Homo sapiens: one gene and its partners. The protein of the gene in region 1 purifies or fractionates together with the protein of each later gene. This does not show direct contact. Each region holds a gene or a part of one and is shown in the gene's direction. Other genes may lie near its edges.

The links.
Region 2: the proteins of GLB1 (region 1) and TRAPPC6B purify together in Homo sapiens (affinity purification with mass spectrometry; 2 studies listed by BioGRID and IntAct, with this or other methods). This does not show direct contact.
Region 3: the proteins of GLB1 (region 1) and TRAPPC10 purify together in Homo sapiens (affinity purification with mass spectrometry; 2 studies listed by BioGRID and IntAct, with this or other methods). This does not show direct contact.
Region 4: the proteins of GLB1 (region 1) and TRAPPC9 purify together in Homo sapiens (co-immunoprecipitation; 3 studies listed by BioGRID and IntAct, with this or other methods). This does not show direct contact.

The regions. Positions count from the first base shown.
Region 1 is NC_000003.12:33,010,144-33,017,169, reverse strand, and holds part of GLB1 (beta-galactosidase isoform a preproprotein), read left to right. Parts: intron 1-329; coding exon 330-461; intron 462-2,859; coding exon 2,860-3,114; intron 3,115-7,026.
Region 2 is NC_000014.9:39,160,327-39,167,352, reverse strand, and holds part of TRAPPC6B (trafficking protein particle complex subunit 6B), read left to right. Parts: intron 1-7,026. UniProt on the Homo sapiens protein: Component of a transport protein particle (TRAPP) complex that may function in specific stages of inter-organelle traffic.
Region 3 is NC_000021.9:44,078,295-44,085,320, forward strand, and holds part of TRAPPC10 (trafficking protein particle complex subunit 10), read left to right. Parts: intron 1-1,269; coding exon 1,270-1,410; intron 1,411-1,720; coding exon 1,721-1,833; intron 1,834-4,493; coding exon 4,494-5,008; intron 5,009-5,827; coding exon 5,828-5,969; intron 5,970-6,293; coding exon of another isoform or gene 6,294-6,404; intron 6,405-7,026. UniProt on the Homo sapiens protein: Specific subunit of the TRAPP (transport protein particle) II complex, a highly conserved vesicle tethering complex that functions in late Golgi trafficking as a membrane tether.
Region 4 is NC_000008.11:140,447,726-140,454,751, reverse strand, and holds part of TRAPPC9 (trafficking protein particle complex subunit 9), read left to right. Parts: intron 1-3,368; coding exon of another isoform or gene 3,369-3,378; coding exon 3,379-3,962; intron 3,963-7,026. UniProt on the Homo sapiens protein: Functions as an activator of NF-kappa-B through increased phosphorylation of the IKK complex. May function in neuronal cells differentiation. May play a role in vesicular transport from endoplasmic reticulum to Golgi.

The DNA.
Region 1 (7,026 bases):
ACACGAAGCAGCTACTCTAGTAAGAATCCTCCCCTGGAATTTTCCACTAAAAGTAGTTGGCAGTAAAACATTCCAGGGCAAAGGAAACCAGCTTAGACCGTTCCATGCTCTGAGCTGTGTCTGGCAGTTTTCCTGTTTAGGAAGCAGTGATTGGGGGATCTTTCCGACCTGGCCGGTAACTTGGGCTAAGATGCTATCAAAGCATTTCTTTCCAAGTCTGGTGACACTTCAAGGCAAGAAAATGAGTGCTAAATTAACTGAGCATGCTGCCTCTCCTTGCTGACCTTCTTACCCTCAATTCAATTGTCATTTGGTCTTGAACCCCACAGATCCCCCAGGGAGTCCTTGAGCGAAACAATGTGATCACTCTGAACATAACAGGGAAAGCTGGAGCCACTCTGGACCTTCTGGTAGAGAACATGGGACGTGTGAACTATGGTGCATATATCAACGATTTTAAGGTAGGACAAACCACACTGTCAAGACTAAGGTTTAAGGGGTGACAACTTAGAAGTTGAAGCCCAGTACAGTGGCTCACACCTGTAATCTCAGCACTTTGGGAAGCCAAGGCAGGAGGATCACTTGAGGCCAGGAGTTCAAGACCAGCCTGGGTAAAATAGTGAGACCTCTACAAAGAATTAAAAACTTAGCCAGGTGTGGTGACATGCACCTGTGGTCTCAGCTACTCAGGAGGCTGAGGCAGGAGAATTGCTTGAGTCCAGAAGTTGGAGATTAAAATGACCTATGATCATGCCACTGCACTCTAGTCTGGGTGACAAAGTGAGACCTTGTCTCAAAAAAAAGAAGTAGTTGAGCTATTTTGAAGAGCTGTTTTCCTCTGTAGGTGATGAGAAAGTTGAGCTTTGCAAACAGAACCTTTCCCCTGTGTTTGAGTTTGGTCATCCTATAGAAAGAAACAGAAGGAGGAAGCCCCTCCACCATGCTTTTCCTCTGCTTTAAAAGACCACCAAGCTCACTGAAGGCACTCCTTTGCCAGTAAAGCCAGCTGAGCCTCTGTTCTGCCCTGTTTTATGGGTTTGGATGGTTAGCCTGTGGCAAACTCTTCACTTGTAGGAAGCCTCTTCCCTTGGGGCACTGGCTCTCACCTCTGTTGATTACTCCTGTGTCCAGATGTGTAGCCCAAATAAGTTTTTCTAACACATATTTTTAGAGCATTATTCAGCAAGCATTTGTTAAGCTCCCACTCCGCGAGATGCCCCACCAGGTGCTTTGGGGAATGCAAAGGTGTCAAGAGACAGGCTTCTCTCAGGGAGCTCAACCTCCGCGAGAGGAGAGAATGCCTTATCAAGGGAACAATGGCACCACCCAGGCTAGGGCAGGACAGGTGTCTGGGGCTATTTCCTGACCCTCTTGAGATCAGGCAATTACATCTTAGGGAACTTAGGGAATAGCTGTGTGCAGGCCACCTTTGCCTCCAGTATAAATGTCTCTCTCATAGTTCTTGTGCTCAGGGTGGACTTCATGGCCTCCTGCCTGGCTCTCACAGGCCACATTGACCCATGGGAGTGACTCGACTCTGTTGTGTAGTCTCTGGGTCTCCAGTACCTGTCAAAGAGCCTGACATACAGCCACCTGGTTAATATTTATCAAATTATTAAATGGGCAATCGAGACTTGGTATCTGGGATTCCACTGGGAATGGGGAAGTTCCCTACATACAAGCCAGGGAAGGGGAAGTTAGCTGAGCCTTGACAGCCCAGCCCTGGCCTGTGTGGAACAAATAGAGCAGCTTCTGAATTCAGGTCTGAGGTTTGCCATCGTCATCATTACCTTCCTATCCTCTTAAGGTATCACAGTATTCTCATGTATGTTATCTCACTTGGCCCTCATAACAGGTGAGTGACTCGGGTGTGGTCCTCCCTGTGATGATGGCTGAGGTGCTCAAGGCCAATATTTGCTCCTGGCTGCATCCGTCGTACCTGCTCCATCCGCAGTGGGATGACTATTCCTTTGTATCCCACACTCACTCATTCCTTCTGTCCCCAGATTCCATCTTGAGACAGGATCTTGCTGTCACCCAGCCTGGAGCGCAGTGGCACAATCTCGGCTTACTGCAACCTCTGTCTCCTGGGCTCAAGCAATCCTCCCTTCTCAGCCTCCCAAGTAGTTGGGACTATACGTGCATGCCCCCACACTAGGCCAATTTCTGTATGTTTTGTAGAGACTGGATCCCTTTTTGTTTTGAGATGGAGTGTCGCTCTGACACCCAGGCTGGAGTACAGTGGCGCGATCTCAGCTCACTGCAACCTCCACCTGTCAGGTTCAAGCGATTCTCATGCCTCAGCCTCCTGAGTATCTGGGATTACAGGCACCTGCCACCACACCCAGCTAACTTTTGTATTTTTAGTAAAGATGGGGTTTCATCATGTTGGCCAGGTTGGTCTTGAACTCCTAACCTCAAGTGATCTGTCTGCCTTGGCCTCTCAAAGTGCTGGGATTACAGGCATGAGCCACTGCGCCTGGCCCATCTTTCTTGGTGCCCATCTTTCTCTATTCTAGCAGTGGCTCTCAGCCAAACTCTGAAAATTTGGGAATTTGGGATCAATCACTCTAGCAACTCAATGCCCTTTCTGTAGAAGCAGAAACTCTGGGCCTTTTATAGAGACATCATGACCTGCAAAGGAGAAAGCTATAGTTTGGGGAATATATCTCTTCCCAAGGATTTGTAATTCAACCTCCAGTTAGATCTGTGTTACTTCGATGTACACATATTTCGAGGTTCATTTCCTGTTGGTGTTTTGTATCCCGGTTTGCTTTTCCCATTTCCCTGGAATGCAGAGACATGTGAAGCCTTTTTCCTTCCCTCCCCAGCTCACTGTGCTCTGTTTCTGCTTTGCAGGGTTTGGTTTCTAACCTGACTCTCAGTTCCAATATCCTCACGGACTGGACGATCTTTCCACTGGACACTGAGGATGCAGTGTGCAGCCACCTGGGGGGCTGGGGACACCGTGACAGTGGCCACCATGATGAAGCCTGGGCCCACAACTCATCCAACTACACGCTCCCGGCCTTTTATATGGGGAACTTCTCCATTCCCAGTGGGATCCCAGACTTGCCCCAGGACACCTTTATCCAGTTTCCTGGATGGACCAAGGTACGTGTCTTCATGGGAAGGGTTTGAATTCAGGCCTAAACTTTTGGTTGTTAGTGTCTGAGAAAGAATCACAAAGAGCTGTTAGTGAGATATCGTGTGATGGTTTTGAGTGTGGCGTTTCGGACATTCTTCAGGAGGCGGATTGTGGCAGATCTTCAGGGATTCAGTGGCCAGCTCGGAGGTGCTGCCATCTGCCCCCTTGTCATTGGCTTCCTGTAGTGAATGACACCATCCTGCCTCCTCCAAGAAGAATCATGACCCCTTTTGATGCTGATTATAGGGGTGCTTTCTCTTTATCTTGAGGACAATCCAGTCAAGACAAAGAGGTGGATCCCTCTGGGAGAGTCTGTCTGGTTTTCATTTATGCCAAGCCCAGTGCTCCCAGAATATCCCCACCTGCATCCAGCCCCACACCCCTGGGGCTTCTATCATAAGCTGTCTGCTTCTCCACTCTTCCTCATCCATTTTCACTTCCCAGTCACTCCGCCTTGTCGTTTGAAGACATTGGCATATCTTCCTTCACCGCCTTCTCCTCTCCCTCATGTCCTGTTTTCATCCTAGATCACCTTACCATCACTCATTCAACACACTTCTCATTCTGTGGCCACTATGTGCCCAAGGTGTGTGCCAGGCACTAAGGATACAATCATGAATAAAACCAAACATGGTCCTTTCCCTCATGGAACTTTCAGTCTAGTGAGGGAGGCAGACTCATATTAAAAAGTAAAACCATAGCTGTGATGGATGCTAAGAAGGGCTATGGGGTTGATAATAATTGGTGCATTTTGCCTTGTCAGGGAGGTCAGGGAAGCCTTCCCTAAGATAGTGATGCTTGTCAGAGATATGAAGGATGAGTAAGAATTAGCATGGCAAGAAGGGAAGAAAGCATGTTCCTGGGAGAGGTAACAGCTTGTGCAAAGGCCATGGGGTTGGAGGGGAAAATGTCAAGTGTGGAAAGTAGGTAGAGACTAGATTGGGACGGGCCTTATAGGCCACGTTAAAGTTTTGTCTTTGTGTTGAGAGCCATTGAAGCAGGAGAGTGACATGATAAGACTGTGATCTGACAAGCTCCTCTGACCCCATTGTGCAGAATGGTTTGGGTAAGGACACTTATGGATTCGAGGAAACCATCTAGGAGGCTGGACCATAGTCTCATTGAGAAACTGGGATGGTGGTATCTAAGATGGAGATGACATCAACTATTTGAGAGATGTTCAAAGTTGGATCAATAAATTGTGACAATGGATTGGACAGGAGGGTTTGGGGAGAGGGATATGTCTCGGATGACTCAGGTCTCAAGCTTGCAGCTGGGCAGAATGGTACCATTTGCTGAAAGAAGCAGCTTCAGAAGGGGACTTAGGCTTAGAAAGGGGGGTCATGAGTTTGAATTTAGACCAATTGTGTTTGAAAAGCTGCCTTAGTCTATTTGGGCTGCTATAACAAAATACCATAAGCTGGGTGGCTTATAAACAACAGGCATTTATTTCTCACAGTTCTGGAGGCTAGGAAGTCTTCAATATCAGGGCACCAGTAGATTTGCTGTCTGGTGAGAGTCTACTTCATCATAGACAGCACCCTCTATGTCCTTACATGGCTGAAGGGGCAAAGGAGCTCTCTTGGGTCTCTTTTATGAGGACACTAATTTCATTCATGAGGGCTCCACCTTCATGACCTAATCACCTCCCAGAGGGGGCCCCACCTCCTAACCCATCACATGGGGGCTAGAATTTTAACAGATGAGTTTTGGGTGGACACAAACATTCAGACCATAGCAGAGGCCTTGGAGAATGGCTGGGAAAGACAGTATTGGAGGAGGGTTGTTGGATCTATAGGCTGGGAATTCAGGGCAGGGATCTGGGCCAGGAATGTATGTAGAAGATCATTGTTGTATAGATGATTGTTGAAAACATGGGCTGGATGAGGTCTCTCAAGGAGAGAGGATGCAGAGGGAAGAAAAGAGGACGTAAGGCTGATGTTTGAGGGACAAAAACATGATGAAGACTGAAGAGGAGAGACCAAACAAGTAGGAAGAAAACCAGCATTTATGCTGCCAAGAGGACAAATAAGATAAAGACAGAAGCACTTCGGTGGTTTTAGAAGCAAGGAGGCCCTTGGGAATCAGTAAGCCTTGTTCCAGTGGAGTGAAGCATCTCCCAGCCAGATTGCATTCTATAGAGAAGACCAGGGTAAGGAATACGAACAGGAATACTTGAATATAAACGTTCTTTTTGAGAAATTTAATTCTGAAGAAGAGGAGAAAATTATGTTAATAGCTGGAGGAGGAGAAGGCAAAAGATGTACATGGTGTGTGTTTAATAAAATGCCCTTTTATTTATTTATGTGTTGCTTGTTTAAAATTTATTGAAATGTATTTTCATTATTCTGTTTGAAATATTTTCTTTTTTTTTTTTTTTTTTGAGATGGACTCTGTCACCTAGGCTGGAGTACAGTGGTGTGATCTCTGCTCACTGCAACCTCTGCCTCCCGGGCTCAAGCAATTCTCCTGCCTCAGCCTCCAGAGTAGCGGGGACTACAGGCACACACCACCACTCCTGGCTAATTTTTTTTATTATTTTTATTTTATTTTTTATTTTTTGTTTTTTTTTTATTTTTATTGGAGACGGGGTTTCATCATGTTGGCCAGGCTGATCTCGGACTCCTGACCTCAAATGAAGTCTCGAAAAGTGCTAGGATAGACATCTGAATTCATTCCAACTTATAGTTATTATAGTTATTATAATACTGCTGTAAACACTTGCATGTAAGTTTTTATGTGAACTTGGCCTCGAAAAGTGCTAGGATTACAAGTGTGAGCCACCACAGCCATCCTGTTAGAAATATTTTCTACTTTCCCATATGATTTCTTCTTTGAACCATAGATTATTAAAAAGTATGTTTTACTGGGTGTGGTGGCTCATGCCTGTAAATCCCAGCACTTTGGGAGGCCGAGACGGGTGGATCACCTGAGGCCAGGAGTTCAAGACCAGCCTGGGCAACATGGCAGAACCCCATTTCTACTAAAAATACAAAAATTAGCCAGGCGTGGTGGTGAGTAACTGTAATCTCAGCTACTTGGGAGACTGAGGTGGGAGAATCTCTCGAACCTGGAAGGCAGAGGCTGCAGTGAGCCAAGAGCATGCCACTGCACTCCAGCCTGGGTGACAAAGCAAGACTGTGTCTCAAAAACAAAACAAAAACAAACAAACAAAAAAAGTATGCTGTTTAATTTCCACATATTTTGGGTTTGTAAAAATATCTTGTAATTATTAATTTGTAACTTAATTCCTCTATAAAACTTCTAAAATTTCTCTCTAGGGAGAGAAATCTCCATGATCTTGGGTTAGGCAAAGACTTCTTAGATTTGACACCTAAGGCATTATCCTTAAAGAACAAAAATTGATAAATTGGACTTTATCAGAATTAAAAATATTTGTTCTTCAAAAAGCATTATTAGGAAAATGAGAATCCAAGCCACAAACTGGGAGAAAAATAATTTTCAAATCATATATCTAACAAAGGACTTATATCTAGAATATGTAAAGAATTCTTACAATTCAATAATAGACAAACAGCCCAGTCACAAAAGGAGCAAAGAACTTGAATAGACATTTTACCAAAGAAGGCATAAGATGGCTAAGTACATTTGCATTTGTATACCTTCTTTGGTAAAATGTCTATTATAAACTAAAATTAGTGGCTGATTAATGTTCAACATTATTAATCATTTGGGAAATGCAAGTCAAAACCAAAATGAAATACTACTTCACACTCACCAAGATGGCTAAATAGTAAGAAGGACAATAGGCAATGTTGGAAAGGACATGGGGGAAAGGGAATCTTCCCACATTGCTGGTAGAAAGATAAGAAGGTACATTTGGGAGCATAGTTTGGCAATTTCTTCAAGGGCTAAAC
Region 2 (7,026 bases), on another chromosome or scaffold:
AAATAAACTTCCATAAGACTTGAGGTGAGATAAAAGAAAGAAACAGTGTTCTAACCCTCCAAATCAAGGTTTTTCAAACTATGCTTAAAGAGGAATTCTCTTAAAATGGACTAATTGGGCATTTCTCAATTTATGGTGAATGGATTTTGAAAGGCTAATGGATAAAATGTTCTCAAGTTGAATTTTTCTTAAAAATTTGGTGCCTACTCAAAAGTGCATGAACAAGTAGCAAAATTAAGTAGTAGGGCTTAATTCAAAAGCTCATGTGATCATAGGATTTGAAAGTGTCTGCATATAAGCATATTGTAACTGCCCAGTGGGTTCTTCTTCCCCACTGCCCAGGTAGAGCTGATCTATCAAGACAGGAGAATTGCAATAAGGAGTTTATGTAGAGCTGCTAAATGGGAGAGCAGAGTTTTATTATTGCTCAAATCAGCCTCCCCAAACATGCAGAGTCTAGGGTTTATCAAGGATAGTTTGGTAGGCTGGGGGCTGGGGAATGGGTGCTCCTGGTTGGTTGGGGATGCAGTTACAGAGGTGGGGGCCAGAGGACCAGTTGGAGTCATCCGAAATGCAAAAGTCTGAAAAGACATCTCAAAAGGCCTTTTTTAGGTTCTACAATAGTGATATTATTTACAGGAGTAATTGGGGAAGTTACAAATCTGTGACTTCCAGAATAATGTCTGATTATCATTTAACTACCTACATTTTAGCAGAATTCAGACCCCTCTCATAAGCCTAACCTTATAGTCTTTCATTAGTTTTGCAAAGGTGATTTAGTTTCGGGAAGGGCTATTATCATTCTTGCTTTAAGCTTACACTATAAACTAAATTTCTCCCAAAGTTAGCTTGGGCTGCATCCAGAAATGACCAAGGGCAGCTTGGAGGTTAAAGGCAAGATGGAGTTGATTAGGTGAGATCTCTTTTACAGTCATGATTTTCTTACTGTTACAATCTTTGCAAAGGTGGTTTCAATAGTTCCTGCTAATAAATATGTTCCTAGGTGATTCTACAGAGAGCAGATTATTCCAAAAAGAGCATCATGATTTACAGACACTTATTCTAGCTGAACTTGTTTTTTTGTTTTTTTTTTTTTTAAGAGACAAGTCTCTGGGTTAGTGTGGTGGCTCACACCTGTAAATCCCAGCACTTTGGAAGGCTGAGGTGGGAGAATTACTTGAGCCCAGGAGTTGGAGACCAACCTGGGCAACATAGTGAAACAGTGTCTCTATTTAAATAAAAAAAAAAAGAGGCTGGACACGGTGGCTCAGGCCTGTAATCCTAGCACTTTGGGAGGCCAAGGCAGGCAGGTCACAAGGACAGGAGTTCCAGGCCAGCCTGGCCAACATGGTGAAACTCCGTCTCTACTAAAAATACAAAAAATAGCTGGGTGTGGTGGTGCACGCATGTAGTCCCAGCTACTCGGGAGGCTGAGGCAGAAGAATCACTTGAACCCAGGAGGCGGAGGTTGCATTGAGCCGAGATTGTGTCACTGCACTCCAACCTGGGTGACAGAGCAAGACTCAGTCTCAAAAAAAAACAGAGAGAGAGAGAGAGAGACAATGTCTTGCTCTGTCATGCAGGCTGAAATGCAGTGTTGGGACTTTGGCTCACTGCAGCCTTGACCTCCTGGGCTTAAGTGATCCTCCCACATCAGCCTCTCGAATAGCTAGGGCTATGGGCATGCTACCATGTCCAGCTAATTAAAAAAATTTTTTTTTGTAGAAACAGAGTCTTGCTATGTTGCTCAGGCTGGTCTCAGACTCCTAGTCTCAAGTGACCCTCCTGCCTCAGCCTCCTACGGTGCTGGGATTATAGGCATGAGCACTGCGCCTGGCCTCATCCTAAGCATGTTTGAGAAGTGTGGAGAATAGCAGAAAAACTGAAGATAGTGATACGTACAGTAATAGATGTATGTACAGAATTTTACGACAGCATAGGGCCTAAGGAAGTTTCAGGGAAGCCATCTGGGAGAATGTAATACTTGAGCAGAATTTAAAGAATGTGAATGCCAGGCGCGGTGGCTCACGCTTGTAACCCAGCACTTTGGGAGGCCGAGGCGGGCGGATCACAAGGTCAGGAGATCGAGACCGTCCTGGCTAACATGGTGAAACCCCATCTCTACTAAAAATACAAAAAATTAGCCGGGCGTGGTGGCGGTCGCCTGTAGTCCCAGCTACTCAGGAGGCTGAGGCAGGAGAATGGCGTGAACCTGGGAGGCAGAGCTTGCAGTGAGCCGAGATCACGCCACTACACTCCAGCCTGGGCAACTGAGCGAGACTCCGTCTCAAAAAAAAAAAAAAAAGAATGTGAAGTCTAGGGAATAGCACATAAAAAGGCAGGGAGACAGAAGAGAACATGGCACTCTGGAGTTGCTGCAGAAATTTCAGAGTGGTAAAAGGGAAGGATGTTTGTGAATTTGGTTAACTAGCCAGGAGTCTTTAAGGAAAGGACATACCATGATGCCATGCTAAGGAGTTTGGACTTTATTTTTTGTTTGTTTGTTGGTTTGTTTTGAGACAGGATCTCACTCTGTTGCCCGGTCTAGAGTGCAGTGGCTAGATATTGGCTCACTGAAACCTCTGCCTCCTGCACTCAAGCCATCCTCCTACCTCAGCCTCCCAAGTAGCTGGGACTATAGGTGCATGCCACCATGTTCACCTAATTTTTGTAATTTTTTTAAAGATGAGGTTTCACTATGTTGCCCAGGCTGCCCTCGAACTCCTAAGCTCAAGCAATCCTTGGCCTCCCAATGTACTGGGATTTACAGGCATGAGTCACTACATCAGGCCTGGACTTTATTTTGAAGAAAGGGGAGCAGGTGCTGAAATTCCAGTAGAGAATAACATGATTTTTTTTTTAGACAGAGTTTCACTGTTATTGCCCAGGCTGGAATGCAATGGGGTGACCTTGGCTCACTGCAACCTCCGCCTCCTGGGTTCAAGCAATTCTCCTGCCTCAGCCTCCCGAGTAGCTGGGATTACAGGCATGCGCCACCATGCCCAGCTAATGTTTTATGTTTTTAGTAGAGATGGGGTTTTTCCGTGTCGGTAAAGCTGGTCTCGAACTCCTGACCTCAGGTAATCCGCCTGCCTCGGCCTCCCAAAATGCTAGGAGGCGTGAGCCATCATGCCCGGCCGAGAATAACATGATTTTTTTTAGAAATTTACTTTAGTAGAAGTTACACTACCAGAAATATAGAAGATGACACAAAGTAGGAAAAAATGAGACAAGACCAGTTGGAAAGCTATAGCTAAAAACCAGGAGAGAAATGATAAGGCTTTACTTAAGAAGTAAGGGTAGAGAGAGACGATGAATTTTGAAAAGCTTGTAAAAGATAGGCTCCACCGGACTACAGTGTATGGGGGGTTGGGAGCACAGGGGTGAAGAAAATGGAAGTTTTCTGGTTGGAGTAACTAGGTGAATGGTGGTGCCATTAATGAAGTTAGGAAATTTTGGAGGCAGAGCAGGCTGAAGACATTAATAAAATGAATATCATTTGAATATGCATACTTCGAAGGTCCTGTGGGACCACTAGATGTCTATGCCCAATAAAGTCTGTACTAGAAACGCAGATTTAATAGTCACAGCACCATAAGCAGAGTGCATGGTTCCTTAGAAGAAAGTTTAGCAAATAATAAGCCCTATGGTTTCCTTAGTGGGAGACAAACAGCCTTCAGAATATACAAAAATCCCTGCCTTTTTGGAGCTTTATTTTAGCAGAGAGGGGAACAAGGGGCACATGGGCAATATAAAATAGTAAAATGTATGGTATATTAAATGGTGAAAGAAGTTCTGTGGAGACAGATTAAGCAAGGAAGTGGGACTGAGTATCAAAATCAATTTTTAGAAGGTTTGTTAAAGCTGATTAGCGGCCCCATACCCAGAGTTTCTGATTAAGTAAATTGGGAGTGGGACTAGAGAATTTGCAAGTTCCCATGTGATGCTGATGTTGCTGGTCTTTTTTTTTTTTTTTTTTCTGGTGATGAAGTCTCGCCCTGTCACCCAGACTGGAGTGCAGTGGCATGATCTCGGCTCGCTGCAATCTCTGCCTCCTGGGTTCAAGCGTTTCTCCTGCCTCAGCCTCTTGAGTAGCTGGGACTACAGGTATGTGCCACCATGCCCGGCTAATTTTTTGTATTTTTAGTAGAGATGAGGTTTCACTGTGTTAGCCAGGATGATCTCGATCTCCTGACTTCGTGATCCGCCCACCTCAGCCTTCCAAATGCTGGGATTACAGATGTGAGCCACCACACCCAGCCAACACATTTTTAAAATCACTAGGATAGAGAGTTGCCAAAGGGGTATGATGTTGCACTTTTAAAGAAGATGGTTAAAATGGGCCTAAGATGGTGACATGAGAGTAGACTCAAAGGAAGTGAGGGAGTTGGTTGTGTGACTATCTGGAGGAAGAGTTGATGCAAAAGCCCCTGGAATGTGCCTGGCATGTTTAAGGGACGGGGCAGAGTGCATCTGCAGAAGGTTGAAGCCAGAGAGGTATGGGGTCTGGATTGTAGAGGACAGTCCATCAGTCATCCATAGGATTTGGATGTGTTCAGCATAGAGGTACTATTTCAAGCCTTAAGATTGAATGAGATTGTCAAAGAAAGAGCAAAGCAATCTCATGATTTAAGGCAAAGTGTGATAATCAGCTAAGACACTGAGAACTGGGAAGCCTGGATGATTCTGAGACATTTTGAAGCAAGGAACAATAGAACTTAGAGCAGAAAGCAAATGACTCAGGGAAAAACATCAAAGGTGATACCAGGTTTTATAACCTAGGAGAGAAGAATGATTGAAATTGGGATAAAAGGGAGACGAGGAGTAATTAGGAAGAGGATTTGATTTCTGAAAATCAATTATAAGCAGTAGTTCCCTGTTTATCCTGTTGCCTTGTGCCAGGTGCAGTGGCTCACACCTGTAGTCCCACAGCTTTGGGAGGCCAAGCCAGGAGGATATCTTGAGGTCAGGACTTTGAGACCAGCCTGGGTAACAGAGTGAGATCCCATCTCTTAAAAAAAAAAAAAATAGCCAGGCATGGTGATGTGCCTGTAGTCCTAGCTACTTGGGAGACTGAGGTGGGAGGATTGCTTGAACCCAGGAATTTAAAGCTTCAATGAACCATGATCTCGCCAGTGCACTGCAGCCTGGGCGACAGAGCAAGACTTGTCAAATAAATAAGTAAATAGCAGTTTGGTCTTTTGTTGGAGGAACGTCTATTCTTAGCTTGGACACTGCGGTTTTTCCTTGGGCAGCAGAAGCAATGTGGCGATTGAAGAAGTGACCTAAAACTTTGATGTTAGGTAGAAGCAGATGGCCCAAGCCAAGACAAGTGCTTGTAAATCCACTGGTGGGAGCCCCTCCTCCTAACAGCAGGTTATTAACGCTGCCAGAAAAAAAGTGTCCCCTCTACCGGTCTGGTGAAGAAACCTCATCGCTACGGGCCTGGGACTGTGGCACTTCTAGAGATTCTCGTTACCAGAAATTGACCTAGCTTCTCATCTGGAAGCTGCCTTTCTAGAGGTTGGTGAGAGAGATCACCCAGGATTTCAAAACCAACTTTAGGTTTCAGAGCACAGTCATTGGGGTGCTGCAGGAGGCTAGTGAAGTGTACCTGGAGGCTAGTGAAGTGTACCTGGTGGGTTGGTTTGAAGATGCTAATTTGTGTGCCATCTACGGTAAGAGAGTTGGCTCTCATGCCCAAAGACATCCAGTTGGCTCGCCAGACACGGAGTGAGCGAGCTTAAGTGAAGGCAGATTTTAAGGCATTTTATATGAATTCTGTAAAATACTTTGGTTTAATTTGTGACTTTTTGGGGAGAAATTATTTATAATATGTTGCATTTGTGCTTAAGTCATTCCGTCTTTTGGGATGAATGTGAAAAGTGACTGTTCATAGACCTCAGTGACGTAAGCACTGTTGCTCAGGAGTGACAAGTTGCTAATACGCAGAAGGGATGGGTGACATTTTTTCATTCTCATGACGCATGTTTCTGTAAGTTAATGACTTGTTAGGTAGCTATTAAGGAACTAGAGTTGATAAATAAATGTGTATAGGTTCCTTTTGCAATATAACTGGTTATTACTTGATCCAAGTGTTTAACATTTGGAGCTAAGTCTGACCATACATTACTGTGATAGAATGTGGGCCTTTTCAAGGGTGAAGATACAAGCCTTAACCACAGTATAACTTGCAGTTTCCTTAAACAAACAAAGAAATAAAAACCTAGCATGGAGTACATTATGTGCATTTATAATAGCTATTTTAAATATTGTAGTGTCAACATTCAAAAATTAATTCTTTTACATTCGCAAATGGTGGGGAGTCTTGTCATTAAGGTGTGTATAACTTAGAATCCACTTGGTTTTCTCCTAACTGGACTGCATTTGTTTTCATAGTAGTAAAATGTTATGTGTATTACACCTTGCATAAGTCCTCATTCTACTACGTGTTAACTAACCCTCTAGATGATAATGCAGATGCTAACTGTGGGATTTTATTTATAAGAACTCTAGAATAAATACCAGTTATTCCTACCAACATCGGCTGTTACTAATATTCTGAAGTAGTTAGTGCAACTTTTCATTGTGTTGTGGTTGGTCTCCTAAGTAGGTTGGATTTTTCTCCTCTTCTAAGAGAAAACAATAGTGAAATTATTTTCTTTCTCTTTTCTCTCTGTTTCTGTCTCTTTCTCTCTCTCTTTCTCCCTTCCCTTCCCTTCCCTCCCCTCCCCTCCCCTCTTCTTTTCTTTTCTTTCTCTTCTCTTCTCTTTTCTTTCTTTCATGGGGTCCCTTGCTCAACCTGTTGCCCAGGCTGGAGTGCAATGACATGATCATGGCTCAGTGCAGCCTCAACTTCCTGGACTCAAGCAATCCACCTGCATCAGCCTCCAAAATGGCACATGCTACCATGCCCAGCTATTTTATTTTTACTTTTAGTACAGATGTGGTCTTGCTATGTTGCCCAGGCTGGTCTTGAGCCATTGAGCTCAAGTGATCCTCCTGCTTTGGCCTCCTAAAGTGCTG
Region 3 (7,026 bases), on another chromosome or scaffold:
AAACTCAAAATTTAGCGTATTTCTGGTGTGTTTCATAAAATCAGACTATCAAAGAGAAGAAACCCCAGTGGGTCATGTGGTTACCATTTCAGAGTACTCAAAGGAGATACAAGCTATAAGGAAAAAGATGCTTGTTTTCATTTTCTAAAAAAAAAAAAAAAAAAAGTGATTGAAATGAGATCTTGAAATCTGTACTCAAGTGATTTCATTAGGTGAAGCAAGAAATGAGAATTGATTTGAACTGATGTGAATTGGCTGGAAAGGGATTCTTAGATCAGCTAAGTGAACTTTCTGGTTTTCCGGATGTGGTTGGAGCAGCTTTGCCGATTACCCACTGGTTAACAGCAGAGTCACAGCTAGAATGTAGCTCTCTTGAACTTCCATGCTGTGTATCTGAAGAGGAAGGTGCTCCTTAAGGAAGCAGAGAGGCTTCTCGGGAAAGGGGAGGGGATCCTTGTTGCTCCTGAGGCTTTGACAAGCCCTTATTAATTTGCATTTTAAAGGCAGGCAAGGCCGCACACACCAGTAGTCCCAGCTACAGTGGAGGAGGCTGAGGCGGGAGGATCACTTGAGCTGAGGAGTTTGAGACTGCAGTGAGCTATGATCACACCACTGTATTCCAGCCTGAGTGACAGAGCAAGACCCCATCTTTAAAAAAAACAGTTGTGCTTTAAACTTTGCTTTGGGGGCCAAGTGTGGCTATTTTAATTCTCCGGCGTTCTCTGGAAGCTGGATCCTGTGGAGTGCTCTTTGCCTGAGTTTCCAAGTGGCTCTGTGCTCCCTTCCGCTTGCGCCCTGTAGACTGCTTCTGTGTTTCTGTGCCTTTAGTAGGTAGTGTAGACCCATACTTGGACTTCCTGGCTTCATTGCTGACTAGCAGTGTACTTGTGGACAAGCCCTTCCTTCACCTTCTCTTAGCCTTGGCCCTCTTGCCTGTCAGCTTGAGATCATGAATGATAGGCTCACTTTCTTATCCTGAGATTCAGCTATGAAAGTTCCTCGACATGTGTATAAAGCCAGACCAACGATGTGTTGTGCTCTTATCACCACACGCTCATTTCTCAGATCTTTGCCTGGGAGTCTAATTATGTCGTCCTGAGTAGGTACTCTTTCTCACGGAGTGGGGTGGGTGGAAAAGGGCTATCTAGAGATGTTGAGTCTGTCCTGGCATGGGGTCTGGAGGATGGAGGCCAAAGCGGGAGAGATGGGGTTTCAGTGTGTTGATTATCCCTAGCTGTAATGAAAGCTACTGTTTGTTGACTTTGCAAGGAGGAAAAAGGCTCCACAAAAGGCAGAAATCTATCTTCAAGGAGCACTGAAAAACTACCTGGCTGAGGGCTGGGCACTCCCCATCACACACACAAGGAAGCAGCTGGCCGAATGTCAAAAGCACCTTGGACAAATTGAAAAGTATCCTTTAATGTTTTCATGAAGCAGGAAAATTATTTTCTGTTTATACGGCAACATTGCCCACAATCAATGTTTCATTCACACCTATTATTAAGGAGAGAAAAGTCCTAACTTATACATATGTATTGTATAGAAAATGAATGAAATGTCTAGTCGATTTTTTATAATCTAATTTTGAGCCCTAGTAACTTAAAAAAAAAAAGCCCTTTGGCTTTTGAAGCCTCTGTGAAGGCCGTAGGAGACTTTGCATCCACTTCCCCCCGCACTCCTAAGTATGAGCCTCTCCACGCTCCTTACCTCTCCGCTCCAGCTACCTGCAGACCAGCAGCCTCTTAGCCAGTGACCACCACCTCACTGAAGAGGAGCGCAAGCACTTCTGCCAGGAGATACTTGACTTTGCCAGCCAGCCGTCAGACAGCCCAGGTAAGACCAGTTCTTACAACTTGACTAGGAATATTTTCAAATATTACAGAAGTAAAAAAGAATACAAGATATACCAACCACTTACAGTAAACAGTTGCTAACATTTTGCTGTGTAGCTGACATGTATCTATGTCTTTCACCTGACTTTTTTTTTTATTTTTGCTTTAAGTCAAACTCTAGACCACATTAGATCTTCTAAAAATAAGGACAGTCTCTTAACCACACCCAAAGAATTAATAAGGTTCTAATATCATCTGCTAAGTAGGCCATATTCATATTTCCCTAATTGTCTTAAAGTATTTTATAAATCATTTTTAATGGAGTCCAACAGGATATCACATATTACATGTGGTTGTTAGATCTCAGTTCTCTTTTAATGTAAAAAAAGTTCTTCCCATCTCTTTTTCTTCTTCTTCTTTTTTTTTTTTGAGACAGAGTCTCGCTCTGTTGTCCAGGCTGTAGTGCAATGGTGCCATCTCAGCTCACCACAACCTCCGTCTCCCGGGTTCAAGCAATTCTCCTGCCTCAGCCTCCCAAGTAGCTGGGGTTACGTGCGCCCGCCACCATGCCCTGCTAATTTTTTGTATTTTTAGTAGAGACAGTGTTTTGCTCTGTTGGCCAGGCTGGTCTCAGACTCCTGACCTCAGGTGATCCACCCACCTCAGCCTCCCAAAGGGCTGGGATTACAGATGTGAGCCACCGCACCCAGTCTTTTTCTTCATTTTTTAAGATGGTGCTTTTTTTTTTTTTTAAAATGTAACAGCATTATTGTGATATTCACAAACCATGTAATTCACTCATTTGAAGTTTATAATTCAATGGCTTTTAGTCTGTTTCAGGAATATGTGCAACCATTACCACAGTCAATATTATTGTTCTTTTTTTTTTTCTTTTTTTTTTTTTTTTTTTTGACTATCTTGCTCTCTTGCCTGGGCTGGAGTGCAGTGGCACGATCCCAGCTCACTGTAGCCTCAACCTTCTGGAGTCAAGAGATCCTCTTACTTTGGCTTCCTGAGTGGCAGGGACCACAGGTGTGGGCCACCACACCCAGCTATTTTTTTTCTTCTCTGTCTCCCAGGTTGGAGTGCAGTGGCATGATTGTAGCCCACTGCAACCTCTGCTTTTTGGGCTCAATTGCTCCTCCCACCTCCACCTCCTGTGTAGCTTGGACTACAGGAGCATACCACCATGCCTGGCTAATTTTTGTATTTTTAGTAGAGATGGTTTTGCCATATTGCCCAGGCTGGTCTTTAACTCCTGAGCTCAAGGAATCTACACACCTCGGTCTCCCAAAGTGCTGGAATTACAGATGTGAGCCACCATGCCTGGCCACCACAGTCAATTTTAAAACATATTTATCACCCTAAAAAGAAACCCCATACTGTAATCCCCAAAGTGCTGGGATTACAGGCGTGAGCCACCACGCTGGGCCCCAGATGCTTGTAAGTGAATACACCCCAGCAGTCAATAACCACATCAACCTGACCCTGAAACTTCTAGGAACTTCTGCCTGCCCTGGGAGGCCGGGGCAGGCAGATCACTTGAGGTCAGGAGTTTGAGACCAGCCTGGGCAACATGGCGAAACCCTGTCTCTACAAAAAATTAGCCAGGTGTGGTGGCGGGCACCTGTAGTCCCAGCTACCCAGGAGGCTGAGGTAGGAGGATCGCTTGAGCCCAGGAGAACTGGGCTGTAGTGAGCCAAGATGGTGCCACTATACTATAGCCTGGGCGACAGAGCGAGACCCTGTCTCAAAGAAAGGGGGACAACAAAAGATCCATGTGGGTGGGTTTCTCGGGAGCATCATGACGTTAGTCTGTGGAGTCTTTAACGCGCCCAAGCTGACTGTTGGTAGAGCCGTGACCACATCTGCTGCTGCTTTGTATTTGAGACTATTTGAGTTGTGATGTTCCTGCCAACGTTCCTTGGTATCTCTATACGAATAAAATATTCCACAATCGTTTACTGTTTCTCATGATCTATGGCATCAGTCTTGGCAAGTCCTTTCGTTGATGAATATTTAATAAATACTTAACTGGTCACTTCTGCAGCCTTGTGTATTTTCTAGACAAAACCAAGGTACTTACAGTTCGGTCAGAGAGAGAAGGGCCCAGAGAGAGCATTAGGCTCTCATTCCAGCAGCAACTGTAGACCTGGCTGGTTGCTGCCATCCTGGGCCTGGGGGCACAGAGGGGTCCTGCTTAATCGGCTGACTTTGTAGACTGGCAGACACCTGGGGTTTGTTTCCACATCACAGCAGGGCACTTGGGCATCTTCACTGAGCATGTTTTTAAGTAGGTGAGAAAATATTGGAATCCCTTGGAAATAGCTGTAGAAATTGGACTATTTACAAATTGTCGTTTGAAATTGAGAGGTAGTTGACCTGTATTTCTCTTAGGTTTGTCAAAGCAGACTTGAGAAGGTTAATTTCTGTACATTTTATGATTTCTAGGCATTACGTAGGTATTTGCTAATATTCTGCTTTTGATACAATAGCCTTTGGGGGGTGTGAAGATGGCAGGAGGCTGGGCTCAGCTGCTGTGCCCATCACTGCTGCTTGCTTCAGTCTGCTCTCGGTGATCTTACTGTGTCCGCGGCCTGCTGCTGCTTACTGTCAGGAAGTGTGACTTGGGGAGTCACTTACGATAATGTCTATTTACAGGTCATAAGATAGTGCTACCCATGCATTCCTTTGCACAACTGCGAGATCTCCATTTTGATCCCTCCAATGCCGTGGTCCACGTGGGCGGCGTTTTGTGCGTTGAGATAACCATGTACAGCCAGATGCCTGTGCCTGTTCACGTGGAGCAGATTGTGGTCAATGTCCACTTCAGCATTGAGAAAAACAGCTACCGGAAGACTGCGGAGTGGCTTACCAAGCACAAGACGTCCAATGGGATCATTAACTTTCCACCCGAGACCGCACCTTTCCCTGTATCCCAAAACAGTTTGCCCGCGCTGGAGTTGTATGAAATGTTTGAGAGAAGCCCATCTGATAACTCCTTGAACACGACTGGGATTATCTGCAGAAACGTCCACATGCTCCTGAGAAGGCAGGAGAGCAGCTCCTCTCTAGAGATGCCCTCAGGGGTGGCTCTGGAGGAGGGTGCCCACGTGCTGAGGTGCAGCCACGTGACCCTGGAACCAGGGGCCAACCAGATAACATTCAGGACTCAGGTATGCGTTCAGGGTGGGAACTTGACTTTCAAGTTTGTAAAGCAGGGCCGTGGAGCTTACAAGAACTGTCTGGAGTGTGCTGTGAATTGAGTAGAGTCCTTTGTTCTCCTAACCCTGTTTTTGTCTCTGTCCTTATACAAAAATACACTGATGTTTTCTTTCGTGTTTTATACAATTTTCTGACATTTGATAAATTCTGAGTGAAGTTCTTAACGTAGATATTTGTTCTTAGATTAAGTTAGCTTTTTAACTCATTGGATTATTGGATTCAGTTAGCTTTCCCCCCTGCATATGAAAATACACACCCTCATTTGTTAAAATGAGCTTTCAAAGAAGGTGGTACACTTTCCCACTCAAACTTATTTTCCTTTTGTGGCTGGCTGGGTGTCAAAACTGGTGTTTCTCACCCACTCTAACATAAAGTTTTCTCTGACACAGGATATCCTGTAAGTTCCACTAACTCAACAGGATTTGGCCTGTGGAAAGTACAGCTATTTGTCACATTTTTTAGTCTAGGGCAGGGCTTAAATCTCGTGCTGAATGTCTCTACAATGCCACAAATACAGTTTAGATAAGTTGAAAATACCTTATTAAAGTTAAATTTAAGCATCAGTTACTCAGAAAATCACGAATTGAGAGATTCTGAGGGCCTTGTGAAGAGCCCAAGCTTAGAGGTTTAGGCACAAGAGCAGGGGGTACAAGAGGGAAAGAAGTACAGGCCTTTCTGGAGTTCAGAGAGACCGCTGCACCGCGCTACCGCAGGAAGCTAACTGCAAAACTGGGTGACGTGGTTTCAAATGCCTGATTCTTTGACTCTAGGCCAAGGAACCTGGAACGTATACACTCAGGCAGCTGTGCGCCTCGGTGGGCTCCGTGTGGTTCGTCCTCCCTCACATCTACCCCATTGTGCAGTACGACGTGTACTCACAGGAGCCCCAGCTGCACGTGGAGCCGCTGGCTGGTGAGTGGGGTCCCCAGCCTTTGAGGAGGCGTGCTGCTGGGGCAGTTCTGAGGAGACCTGCTGAGATGCCAGGCTTCTCATAAGTTTTAGCTGTGTCTGCCTTTAAGAGATATTTTGGGTAACATAATGGAAATTTTGCCTGGGAACTAGCTGACTGCCTCTTTTGTTTATCTGAATGTTTGCTTTCCTGTAATTGCTTTTTCATGTTTAATAAACATGGTGTATCTGAAAATAAGAAACACAGAAGAATTAGCTCTGAGAGTGGAAAAAAGAAACTCAAGGTATTTTTTTCTATTGGCTCACTCAACCTAATGGTCAATGCAGAGGACTTCTGGGCCCAAATGTGCAGGGATTTCCCCCTGCCAGCAAGCAAGCAGTCGGTCCTGCAATTCAGTTCTGACCCTGTCTACTGGAGCTGGCGTCAGACACCACAGGGTGAGGGCTCAGTCCCCAAGACAGTCCCCCCCTTCCCATGCCAGCCACCAGCCCAGGGTTCTTTTGCTTGTGCTCCTGACCAACTAGCTAGAAATCAGGGCTCTCACAACCCCCTTTCTGGGTTTGATGAATTTGTTAGAACAGCTCACAGAACTCAGGGAAACAGGTTGACTGGATTATTATAAGGGATATAGATGAAGAAGTGTGGAGGGTGAGGTATGGGGAAAGGGGTGCAGAGCTTCCACGCCCTCCCTGGGCGCCACCCTCCAGGAACCTCCATGTGTTCAGCTGCCTGAAAGCTCTCCAGACCCTGTCCTTTGGTTTTTATGGAAGTGACATTACACAGGCATGATCGATTACACCACTGGCCACTGATGAGCAACTCGACCTTCAGCCCCTCTTTCCTCCCTGGAGGTTGGGTGCCACTGCTGAAAGGCCCGACCCTCTAATCCTGCCCTGGTCATTCTGGTGACCAGTCCTCATCTTGAAGCTACCTTGGAGCTGCCAGCCTCCAATCAACTCATTAGCCTACAAAAAGACATCACTTTGGAGATTCTAAGGAATTTGGGAGCTAGTATGCCTGGAAATGGGGTTGAAAACTACATGTGTATTTTACAGTGTC
Region 4 (7,026 bases), on another chromosome or scaffold:
GGCCAGGCTGGTCTCGAACTCCTGACCTCAGGCGATCCACTCGACTTGGCCTCCCAAAGTGTTGAGATCACAGGTGTGAGGTCAGGTTGTGTTTTTTTTTTTTTTTTTTTTGAGAGGGAGTCTTACTCTTATTGCCCAGGCTGGAGTGCAGTGGCGTGATCTCGGCTCACTGCAACCCCCATCTCCTGGGTTCAAGCGATTCTCCTGCCTCAGCCTCCTGAGTAGCTGGGATCACAGGCATGCGCCACCACGCCTGGCTAATTTTTTGTATTTTTATTAGAGACCGGGTTTCTCCATGTTGGTCAGGCTGGTCTCCAACTCCTGACCTCAAGTGATCTGCCTGCCTCCGCCTCCCAAAGTGCTGGGATTACAGGTGTGAGCCACCACACCCGGCTGATTATGCTGCTTTTTAGATGAGACGATAGTTTTTATTTTTAAATCATTTTTATTTATTAATTTTTTTGAGATGGAGTCTCGCTCTGTTACCCAGGCTGGAGTGCAGTGTTGTGATCTTGGCTCACTGCCTCCTCCACCTCCTGAGTTCAAGCAATTCTCCTGCCTCAGCCTCTGGAGTAGCTGGGACTGCGGGTGTGTGCTACCACTCCTGGCTAATTTTTGTATTTTTAATAGAGATGGGGTTTTGTCATGTTGACCAGGCTGGTCTCTAACTGCTGACCTCAAGTGATCCTCCCGCCTCTGTCTCCCAAAGTGTTGGGATTACAGGTGTGAGCCACCGTGTCTGGCCGAGATGATACTTCTAAAATAAGGCCCTTTGTTACCTGCGGTGGGCCGCGCTCTCCTCCTCTGTAGAATGAAGGCTTCGGTGTTTCTCAGCTTCTGTTAAACCTGTGCCTACTTTTGAGAAACATGAGCGCTCCAGTCTCCCCCGCTCAGTATTTTGATATGTCCTCCGAGGGGTTTTATGCCTCTTTGTTGGAAGGTGATGTGATTTTGGTTCTTTCGAAGGTGGTTTTTGTGTGCAGAAAAGACTCTTTAGGGAATCGTTGTGGGGAAAGGGCAGGAGAGAGTGGGGCGTCGTCCTTGAGAGCGTGAGCACTGGAGTCAGGGACTTGGGCTGAGTCACACACATGTAATATACTTGTGAACCGTTTAGATCCTGGGCAGAAGCAAGACATGTTGGGAGGCTAGGGTTTCCTTTTTTTAAAATTTAATTTTGTTCATACTTCTCTATCCATGTGTATTTTTGAAGTCTGTAGAGGTGGGGTTGTGATGTCCAGGATAGCCCCCGACACACAGTCCTCCTCCTCTCCGTGCAGGTGAGAAGCTTGCCATTAGAATTTCACAGAGGTCTTATAGCAATGTCACTTTAATCTTAGTGTCACCTGGGAGGGTTTTACTGCCACGATCTCTGCAGTCAGGCTTTGGTGACCTGAAGGTTATGCAGTTTTGGGCTTCCTATTTAAGAAAAAGAAAACAAAATTAAAAATGCAAAATTAGATAGAGGGCCATGGAAGGGGCCTGAAGCTGAACCCCATTAGCTCATGGTACAGCTGCCTCTGGCCATGGGGACCATGGCCAAATCCCCTCAGGAAGTGTCAGCCCACTGATGGGGACAGTGGAGGTGTGTATCGAGGCATCTTTTTCTTATTTGATACAGAGAGCTCATTTAATCTCCCTAACCTTTAAAAAAATTAGACTTTTTATTTGAGACTATAGTAGTTGTAGCTCCATGTGCATTTGTCAGAAATAATACTGAGGGATCCTATATACCTTTTGCCCAGTTTCCCCCCGTGGTGCCATGTTACAAAACCACAGTATGTTATCACAACCAGAATGTTGACTTGCTGACACCTTGAGGTATGTGTTACTATCCTCATTTTTATTCACAATGAAACTAGGGTTCAGGGAAGCACACAGGCTTGCTCCAGGTCACCCAGATCGTGCGTGTAGAGCTGGGAGTTGAATATCGGCCCTGACTTCCAGGCAGTGGGATTTCCATCATGACCGTCTGTAGGCTGGGGGCAGCATTCATTGGATTGTTCATTTGTTTGTTTGTTCACTAATCCCTTCAACAAACATGTATTGAGGATCTCCTATGAGCCAGATTCTTTCACGTGGGTCATCTAATTTAATTTTTCCCCAGCTCTGGGGAATCAGGTAATAACGTTTTCTTTTTATATCTGACAAAATTGGCTCAGAGAGGTTATGGCAACTCTCCCATTTATAAAGGAAAGGTGGTATATTTGTGTAATCTCTCCTTTTATGTTAGGCACAATGCTAGGCCCTTTACATTCGCAACCTCCTCAATCTAGATACAGTTTTATAAGGCAAGTTCTTTTTCTTTTAATTCTTTTTTTTTTTTTTTTTTTTTGAGATGCAGTCTGGCTCTGTCGCCCAGGCTGGAGTGCAGTGGCGCCATCTGGGCTCACTGCAAGCTCTGCCTCCCTGGTTCATGCCATTCTCCTGCCTCAGCCTCCCAAGTAGCTGGGACTACAGGTGCCTGCCACCACGCCGGGCTAATTTTTTGTATTTTTAGTAAAGATGGGGTTTCACCATGTTAGCCAGGATGATCTCGATCTTCTGACCTTGTGATCTGCCTGCCTCAGCTTCCCAAAGTGCTGGGATTACAGGTGTGAGCCACTGCGCCCCGCCTCTTTTTTTTTTTTTTTTGAGACGGAGTCTCACTCTGTCACCCAGGCTGGAGTGCAGTGGCGCAATCTTGGCTCACTGCAGCTTTCACCTCCCGGGTTCCAGTGATTTTCCTGCCTCAGCCTCCTGGGTAACTGGGATTACAGGCACGTGCCACCACACCCGGCTAATTTTTGTATTTTTAGTATAGGTGGGGTTTCACCATGTTGGCCAGGCTGGTCTCGAATTCCTGACCTCAAGTGATCCGCCAGCTTCGGCCTTCCAAAGTGTTAGGATTACAGGCATGAGCCACCATGCCCGGCCAAGACAAGTTCTATTATCACCACTATTTTGTAGCTGAGGAGTTCCAGGGAGCCCGGAATTCAAATCCAGATGTGATTGCATGGTGGATTTTTCTTAATATCCTGTTGAGGGGATGGGGGAGCAATTACACACGTGTTTATTCATTCACTCAACAGACATTTTTGAGCACTGACTCTTACTACTCCTGGTTAGGTGGTGAGAATAGAAAGACAAGAAACAGCCCCATTTCTGTAGAAGCTCCATGCTGAGGCCAAGGGACTGAAGGTCAACAGTTACAGCATTATGATCAGAGCTGCGACAGCCACGTGTAGAGCCCTAAGACCTGTTGATGCCACGGCTTTCCTTGGGGCTTCCCCTGCCTCTGGGTAGTGAAGGTCACAGTCACTGCCTCCCAGGGTAGGCTCTCAGCACTCAGGACTCTGTGTCTCACAGCCTCATTTCTTCTCTCTGAACAGGGACTTCAAAATGAGCGTCCCTGACTACATGCAGTGTGCTGAGGACCACCAGACGCTGCTCGTGGTGGTCCAGCCTGTGGGCATCGTCTCCGAGGAGAACTTCTTCAGGATCTATAAGAGGATTTGCTCTGTGAGTCAGATCAGCGTGCGGGACTCCCAGCGAGTCCTCTACATCCGCTACAGGCACCACTACCCACCCGAGAACAACGAGTGGGGTGACTTCCAGACCCACCGCAAAGTCGTGGGCCTCATCACCATCACAGACTGCTTCTCGGCCAAGGACTGGCCACAGACCTTTGAGAAGTTCCACGTGCAGAAGGAGATCTACGGCTCCACACTGTATGACTCCCGGCTCTTTGTCTTCGGGCTGCAGGGGGAGATCGTGGAGCAGCCGCGCACCGACGTGGCTTTCTACCCCAACTACGAGGACTGCCAGACGGTGGAGAAGAGAATCGAGGACTTCATCGAGTCACTGTTCATCGTGCTGGAGTCCAAGCGTCTGGACAGAGCCACAGACAAGTCTGGGGATAAGATCCCCCTTCTCTGTGTCCCGTTTGAGAAAAAGGACTTTGTAGGACTGGACACAGACAGCAGGTAAGCTTACCTAGAGACCCAGGCCCCTTGGCTTCCCTGCATCAGAAAGGGAAAGCACAGGGCAGAATTTCATTGCAGCAAGGAGTAGAAAGGTGTTGTCCATTGGTTTTTAAAACTAATGACTTTCTGTCAGAATCTGTTTGAGTGCTGCTAAAAAAACCAACCAAACAAAAACCAGTGACTTTTAAAGACAGAGACAGCCTTTGGTTGGGGGAGTCCTTTAGAGTTGTCTTGTACACTCCCCTCTTTTTAGTGGGGCTCCCCTCGTGGGACTCCTGGAGCTCTGTCCCATACAGCAGCCACAGCCAGTTGTGGCTTTTGGGCACTAGACACGAGGCTAGTTTTAGTTGAGATGGGCTGTGAATAAAACCCACGCCAGATTTTGAGACTTACTTCTGAAAAAATAAACTTTCTTGCTAATTTTTTTTTGAGACAGAGTCTTACTCTGTCTCTCAGGCTGGAGTGCAGTGGCGCGATCTTGGCTCAGTGCAACGTGCACCTCCCGGGTTCAAGTGATTCTCATGCCTCAGCCTCCCAAGTAGCTGGGACTACAGGCAGGTGCCACCATGCCTGGCTAAGTTTTGTATCTTTAATAGAGACAGGATCTTGCCACGTTGGCCAGGCTGGTCTTGAACTCCTGGCCTTGAGTGATCTGCCTGCCTTGGCCTCCCAAAGTGCTGGGATTACAGGTGTGAGCCTCTGTGCCTGGCCAACTTTCTTGCTAATATGTTTTATACAGATTACATGTTGAAATGATAGTATTTTACATATCTTAGGTTAAATAAACTATATTTTAAAAATCAGTATCAACTGTTTCATTCTTACTTTTAAAAATGTGGCAACTAGAAACTGAAATGTACTTACGTGGCTTGCATTTTATTTCTGTTGGACAGCACTGTGCTAGAGCACAGTTTGAACAGTTTTATTCAGTCTCGTCCCTTTGGTTCACAGATGAGAGGGTGAATCTGGAGAGGTAAGGGCTAGGTCCTAGCTGAGCTAGAAGTAGAGCCCACGTCTCCGGATTGCCAGGCTGTGCACCCTGCGTATGTGGCTACTTTTTCCCTCCTGATGGCCACAGTGTCGAATTCCTCACTTACAAAGCAGCCAAGCATGGATATCAGGATGCCAGAAATACCACCTGGGAGCTCCTAAACAGCTACCGTATACAAATGAAAAGTATGTCTGTTCTCTCTGTGTACAAGGAGTGTTGGATAGAGCAGGAAAAGGTCAGCTTCCCATCTTGCCTGTTATTAAGTCAAAAACTTTATTTCAAATCAAAATTGCAGATGAGCTCTTCCTTGCCACTTCCTTCCACTCTCTGCTTGCTGCTGTGTCTTGCCATGGTGGCTGTTCTGCAGAGCTGGATGAGATGCAAGCCTAGGCAGCAGCTGTTTGCCAAGAGGGCGTCCCCATTTGCCAGGGAAAGTGATGTGTCACTGTGTCAGTCACTGGCCTCCTGGCTTGGACAGGGCTCTCCCTCCTCCTGTATAGGATTGGCTGATGAGCCACAGGTGAGGATTCAGTGATGTAAGGTGCATGCCACCATAGTGCCTGCTGCAAAGTAGGTGCTCAGTATGTTTCTGAAATTTATCTAAGGTCACACGGTGTCGTTCTGGTTGTTGGTAAGTATGAGGAGAGATGATCACAGAATTGAGACACAGTAGTCTTAAATCCAGCCCTCAGAGTTGGAAGCATGGAATAGCCTCAGTCGCACCTGCCTGTGGTGCTTTGCAGGGTCTGGAAGGAAGGAATTTTCATTTCTTCACCCAAATGTGCATATTTGGCTTAAGGAAAGGAAAAGGCATGCTGTAGACCTGCTCTGTGTTTAATCCTCACGGCAGCCCTGTGATCTACACGGGGTTGCTGTGCTGGCTGATGTGGGGCTGAGGCAGCAAGGTTTAGAGACCCGGGCAGCCACCAAGCAGCAGAGCTGATATAAGCACCAGGTCTGTCTCTGAGGCCCGGGGCCTTTCTACCTCACCTTGTTGCCTTCTGCTGCGCCTCCTGTGCCTCGTGAATAGCGCACACTGCTGTCCAGCCAGCAGGCACTGTGGGAGTCATCCCTGATAAGGTGTTGCTGTATGGTGTGCACAGCTTGGCGGCCACCTGCCAGGTCGGCAGGGAGTGGCCTGCCCCTGCTTTACAGAGAAGGGGTGAGGGGTTGAAGCTCACAGGCAGCATGGGTCAGGAATCCTGCTCTGACCCCTTGACTCATGCCTTCCTCCTTTGCCACATGGGCATCAGTGACATTTTTCAGTCATCCACTTCTTGGCTGTGAGGTTGCAGATCCACCTTCAAATGCCAGGTCTTTTTTGCCTTTTGAAATCTGAGCTCACAACTCTGCAGGAGGAGCGGGAGTGTGCTGTGACGCAGTGCGTCACGCATAGTGGATAAGGACTGACAAGTGTTTGTTAGAGCCTTCATATGCCAGGCATGGCTCCAGGCACTGAAAATACAGTGGCACATAAAGCTGCTTGCTCACTGTAGTGGGACAGCCGCAATTAGACATCAGTTAGCATTTGAACTTCAGTGAGATAATGACACCAGTGAACTCAAATCAAATACATCCTCCTCTCATAATGGGTAACCTGTTGTTGCTTTTGTTTCTCCATGGTTCTCTAATTTTTTTTTTTTTTTTTTTTTTGAGATGGTGTCTTGCTCTGTCACCCAGGCTGGAGTGTGGTGGTGCAGTCTCGGCTCACTGCAACCTCCACCTCCTGGGCTCAAGCGATTCTTTGTGCCTCAGCCTCCTGAGTAGCTGGGATTACAGGCGTGCGCCACCACACTCAGCTAATTTTTGTATTTTTAGTAGAGACAGGGTTTCACCATGTTGGCCAGGCTGGTCTCGAACTCCTGACCTCAAGTGATCCACCTGCCTCGGCCTCCCAAAGTGCTGGGATTACAGGTGTGAGCCACAGTGCCTGGCTGGTTCTCTAATTTTTGAAGGAATGCTTTGGTGCAGGAACAAAGCCTTGTCTCCCCTGCAGCTCTTGGTAGGAGTGAGGAAGTGTCCAACCTGAAATGGGGTGGTATTTTGTAGCTCAACAGGAAATGTCCAGATGTA